2 separate regions of the Homo sapiens genome follow, and region 2 is linked to region 1. The links come from fine-mapping of genetic effects on gene expression. Tissue or cell type: subcutaneous fat. Region 1 holds a variant in brackets; the other region holds the start of a gene. All regions are shown on one strand. Distances are between the middles of the regions.

Evidence for each region. PIP is the estimated chance that this variant, and not a neighbour inherited with it, causes the effect.
Region 2: PLPP2 starts here. The variant in region 1 is fine-mapped to the expression of PLPP2 in subcutaneous fat (GTEx, PIP above 0.99).

The regions. Positions count from the first base shown.
Region 1 is chr19:326,436-329,271 of GRCh38, forward strand. It overlaps MIER2 (MIER family member 2), which reads right to left. Exons shown (of 14, transcript NM_017550.3): 4 at 1,429-1,554; 5 at 698-821; 6 at 72-163. Among named protein-coding and RNA genes, the nearest start is that of MIER2, 17 kb to the right of the region's middle. RefSeq lists an enhancer at 1,226-1,726 and a silencer at 1,740-1,940. The variant G/T (reference allele first, on the strand shown) is at 1,563.
Region 2 is chr19:290,308-292,807 of GRCh38, forward strand. It overlaps PLPP2 (phospholipid phosphatase 2), which reads right to left and starts at 1,096. Exons shown (of 6, transcript NM_003712.4): 1 at 978-1,096. The coding sequence starts at 1,029. RefSeq lists enhancers at 1-292, 1-262, 293-990.

The sequences.
Region 1 (2,836 bases):
GGATGCCAGGTTGGGGAGACGGCAGAACCACGGCCGGGATGCCAGGTTGGGGAGATGGCAGAACCACGTACCTTCTTACATTTGTTGGCAGGAAGAGAGTCCTCCTCGGTGTCGGAGGAGGCAGAAGAGCCAGGCTCTCTGTCTTCATCAGCCAGGAAACGAGCTTTGGGAAAACAGAGGCAGGTCCCCCAGGGTCTCCACTGCCTGCAGCCTATACAACCCCTTCTCTCCACTCCCATTCTCCATCCACCTGATCCCCAGGCCATAACCCTCTCTCTGGCCAGACATTGGGTAAACAGATGGGCACAGGACCCAGGACCAGGGATGCACCTTTGAAGAAAGAGGCCTTCCCTTCTATGCAGCTGCTGCACCTCTGGGCCCCGAGCCCTCAGTTCCCAGGAAAGCCAGCACAGAGGCTTGTGAAGGAGGCCGGTTCTGGGAATGCTGTCCCTGGATCTGCTAGGGGAACCAACATGTTCCCTACTTGTTTAAACCAAATCGCTCTGAGAGTCCAGGCTCACTGGCCAGCGTGGAGGAGAACAAAGCACCCCCAGGGCTACTGACGCTTCCCGCCAGGCAGACGCCCTCATCTGTGATGAGTTCTTGGCCTGCATCAGCCCAAGGACCCTTCATCAAGCATCACGACTGCCTGGCAGGGGGCCTGGCTGCGGTGGAGTATGGGGACAGAGTCACCTACATCCACTCCGGTTAGGGAAGAGGTCGGAGGCCTCGTGGGAGGTCACGGACGGGGTGAGGTCGTCAGCAGATGATTGCGTCTCTTCCTCTTCTTCCCCTGAAAGCAAATCCTTCGCTATTTGTTCCTTTAAAAAAAAAAAAAAAAGTAAAGAACATTTTACAGTTTAACAATCTCGCAATACCACTAATGATAACAACAGTAAAGACACTGGGAGTGCCCTGAGGCTCACATGGGGCTGCTATTCCCATTCTGCAAAGGGTGCACAGCGTGGGGGGAGCGGGGATGGGAAGGAGACACGTGGGAGCCCACACCCAGCCACCAGAGCTGGAGACAGTTAGAGCTGCCACTGGGCACACGCCCGGAGTGCATGGCTCTTTCTCTGACTGTGCATTTGGTTTTAACCTTCTACAATGCAGCCCGCCCCTGCTCCCAACACCCAAGCCTTGACCTGTGACCTCTGGGTACGGAATGGCAGAGAGACCAGTCCTGGGGAGGCCCCGATGTGCCCCTCCACCCACCAAAGCCAGAATGACATGTGGCCTGGGGTTAAGGCTAGGGTCCAGCCCCATGCCCATGGCCATTCCAACCCCAGGGTAGTGGTCACAGGTACATTCTACTTATTCTGGGGGCCTTTGTGCCTCCTCTCACTGAACACTCCCCTCTGCAGAGAGGCAGCGCCAGGCCCCCCCACCTTCAGCTGTGAGCCAGTTCCAGGAAGGGCCCTCACTTACTTTGTCCAGGGTCATGTCTGGGAGGTTCGGGGCCACGTCACCACCCTCACTCTCCCGGTCTGAAATGGGGTCTGACGCCTCGTAGCCATAGAGCGCAAGCAGCTCATCAAAGGGCATGTCGTTGCTCTGAGTTG[G/T]GGAAGGGAACAAGGCCCCATCAGGAGGGACGGCTCTGGGGGTTCCTGTCCCTGTCCTCTTGCCTGAGCCTCACTGGCCACAACCAGGGCCACTCTGTCACACCCATAGCAACTCCCCACATGGCAGCACTCCCCAGCCAGACCTCAGGCCCAGTCCTTCATCCAAGAGCTCCTTTACAATCCCTCAGAGGCACCAGAGCCTAGGGGTCACCGGCCAGGGAAGAGGGCACCACCCTGCCCACAATGCCTCCTTGCACAGGGTGAATTACAGGAATACAAGGATGGTGTGACACAGGGTGAATTACAGGAATACAAGGATGGTGCGACACCTGGCAATTTACTATTGTAACTCAACATCAATATATTAAAGGGGAAAAAAGTTATCTGAAAAAGGCATTTGGTAAAATCCGACATCTATTCCTGATTTGAAAAAAAAAAAAAAGGAACTCTCAGAAAACTACATAAACAGGCCAGACACAGTAGTTCACACCTGTAATCCCAGCATTTTGGAAGGCTACAGCAGGCAGATCACTTGAGGCCAGGAGTTCGAGACCAGCCTGGGCAACATGGCGAAATCCCGTCTCCACTAAAAATACAAAAATTAGCTGTGCTTGGTGGCATCCACCTGTAGTCTCAGCTACTCAAGAGGCTGAAGCACGAGAATCACTTGTACTCGGGAGATGGAGGTTGCAGTGAGCCAAGATCACACCACTGCACTCCAGCCTGGGTGGCAGAGTGAGAATCTGTCTCAAAATAAAAAAAAAGAAGAAAACTATGTAAACGGATGCTTCATCAATATAATGGAGAAGCTGTCAATTCACACTCAGTCAAAAATGGGTAACCAGAGCAGCCCCCATCACGATCTGGAACAAGAGCACTGTGATTAACGAACACTGTTTTGATGCTCTGAGCCAATGTAATATGACAAGAAGTATAAATAAGGCACGTAATTCCTGGGAAGGAAGAGATGCGAACTATCAACATCATGCTCTCCAGTGCTGCTTTCAAATCCTTCTGTCCTCCCTTGTGTGAGCCTCTATTCCACAGAGGCTAGTCCTGTCTGCTCAGACTCCACGCTGATCCCTGTGGGTCACTTTCAGCTTCCAACTTCCGGAACACTCCCTCTCATTCTCTCAAGATGTTAGCACTGGCCTCCCCTCCACCCCAGCTCCTGCCCAGACTCAACCTGGGGGCTTCAAGTCCACATAGAAACCTCCCAGCCTAGTCCCAGCCCTTCTCCAGGTGGAATATCTACACTGAGTCCCCCTTTTGTT
Region 2 (2,500 bases), 36 kb before region 1:
TTTGTTATTTGCATGTTGCTTAGTTCCTGGCATACAGAAAGTGCCACCTAAATGTTTACATAAATAACACCATAGGTGCTCAGGAAATGGTACCACGGGCTGGCAGACACCCACAGGGACTTCTTGCTGTCACCTGGCCCACCCTAAAAAAGGGTCTCCTTCCGGAGGTAAGAGGACTTGGCCTCTGCTGTGAGATGGCAGAGAAGCAGGAAACACGTTGGGGAGGAGGGCACCCCCCAGAGATAGAATTCCAGGGCCATTGTCTGTGCAGCCACAGAGCAAACACTCGGCCTTTGTTCCCGGGACCCTGCGGGAGGGGGGCCTCGGGATGCCCATTCCGCCAGTGTGGCCCGCAAACCCGCCGGACAGGTTTGGTTCTCCTGGCCTCCCGGCCCCCCGCCACCCCGTTCACCCGAAGCCTGGGACCCAGCCTTCATCCCCAGTGTCTCCCCCGCCCGAGCCAGCAGGGCGGCTGGGCCTCCCCGCACGTGCACGGGTTCGAATCCCGCCGACGCACCGGGTGCCAGGACCGAGGGTCAGCCCTCTCCGCGCGCAGCGGGAGCGCCCACCCCAGGGGCGGAGGCGCGGACGTCCTGCCGGGGTAACCCGCGGCCGCCCCCACCTCCCGGGCCCGCGTGACTCACCTCCCAGGCCAGGCGGGGCGGGATGGAGGCGCGCGCGCGGCCCCTCCGCACAGACTTCCTGCTGCCGGGGCGGGGGATGCTGGCCCCGGCTCCCCGGGCCTCTCGCGACCCCCATCCCCCTGGGCCTGGGACGCGGGGACCCCCGAGCCTGGGAGGGCGCGCGCAGTGCGGGGCGCGGAGGGAGGTCTGGTCCTCACGCGAGGTCCCCGCCTCCAGGGTCCTCGGAGGGACGAGGGCGCGCAGCCTCCGCGTTCCCCTGCAAACTTGCGCGCAGCCGGGGGCGTGTCCGTCCCGGGAGGGTCCCCCCAACACCCGGGTCCCCAAGGCTCTTACCGACCAGTAAGCACAGCACGTCGAGCAGCACGAAGACCCACCTCCGCTGCATGGTCCCCGCGACCCCCGACGCCGGTCCCAGCGCGTCCCGTCGCGTCCCGGCCCGGCCGCGGAGTCACGTGGCGCGGAGCCCGCCCCGCGCGGAGAGGAGGGGAGGGGCGGGAAGGGGAGGAGGGGAGGGGCGGGGAGGGCACGAGGGGAGAGGTGAGGAGGGGAGGGGAGGGGAGGAGGGAGGGTTAGGGGCGGGGAGGGGAGGAGGGAGGGGGAGGGGAGGAGGGGAGGGCTAGGGGCGGGGAGGGGAGGGGGGAGGGGGAGGGAAGGGAAGAAGGGGGGGAGGGGAGGAGGGAGGGGGGACGGCAGCGGCGGGCAGGGGAGCAGCGGGGGGGGCGGGGCGCGGCGGACCCGGGACCGCGCGGACTCTGCCCCCGCCTGGCCGCGGCGCCCAAAAGAGCGGGTGGGGCGAGCGTGCGGGCGCCACGGGGACCTCGTCCGCCCGGAGTCCCGGCCCTGACCCGGGCTGTGCGGGTCTCCGAGCGGCGTGAGGTCCTCAGAGGCTGGAGGTTCCCCGCGGGTCGGGCCGGCGGAGCCCCGGGCGGGGACGTGGAGAAGGAGGACGAGCAGCGGCGGGACCGGCCCCGCGGGACGGTTCCCGACTTTCCTCCTCAGGGAGTGGCAGCCGCGCCGTGTGCGCCTGGAAACTCCGACAGCAGGAGGCACCTTAAAGTGGAAGGGGCGACGTGGCTTCATTTCAGGAGTTTCTTTTCTCCTAATACTCAAAATCCTGGCGCGTCCTTGGACCCCTGGCACGTTAGAAGCTCGAGTTCCTCGGCACCCACCTTGCGACGGCGTAGGGTGTCCAGGCGCAGCCCTGTGCCCAGGCACCGTTCCTATCAGCGCACTTGCTGTCCCATTTCACAGAAGAGCACGGGGGCGCCAGGAGCTGGGAACCCCATGAAATGGCGCCGGGGTCTGTGCCCCCACCAGGTCGTGGGGAGCCCTGAGCTGAGGGTGCCTGGGGATTGAGGGCACCTGAGCCAGGGAAACCCAGGCCCAAGGGACCCACACTGGGTCCTTTCGGCTGGGACCATCCGGGAGGCCTCAGGAGTGTCAGACCCACGTTTCCGGAGTCCAGCCTTGACCTCTGCCACTCACGGTCACTTAAATGGGAAGTGGCAGGCCTGGGGTCAGAAACAAGGCTGCTGGGCCCCAGATCCGCTGCCACCCTGACCCTCCTCTAAAACCCGTTCAGCACCACCATCAGCCCCCTGCCCCAGCAACACCAAAACAGGGTGCGTCTCAGCAACTGGACTTCAACTGGGAGCTCCTCGACCCTGCTTCCCGGATGGTCAGACACCTGCACGTGGGGCAGGGGGGCATCATGAGGGAACTCCAAGGGCAAGGGGCTCTTGGGAGACAGCAAAGGCACCCAGAGTGGTGCTGGGTGGGAAGACGGTGCAAGCTGACCTGTGGCCCTCCAAGGGCAGGGTTGAGGTGCTCCCTTGCTGCACTCACGGTGGGGTGGG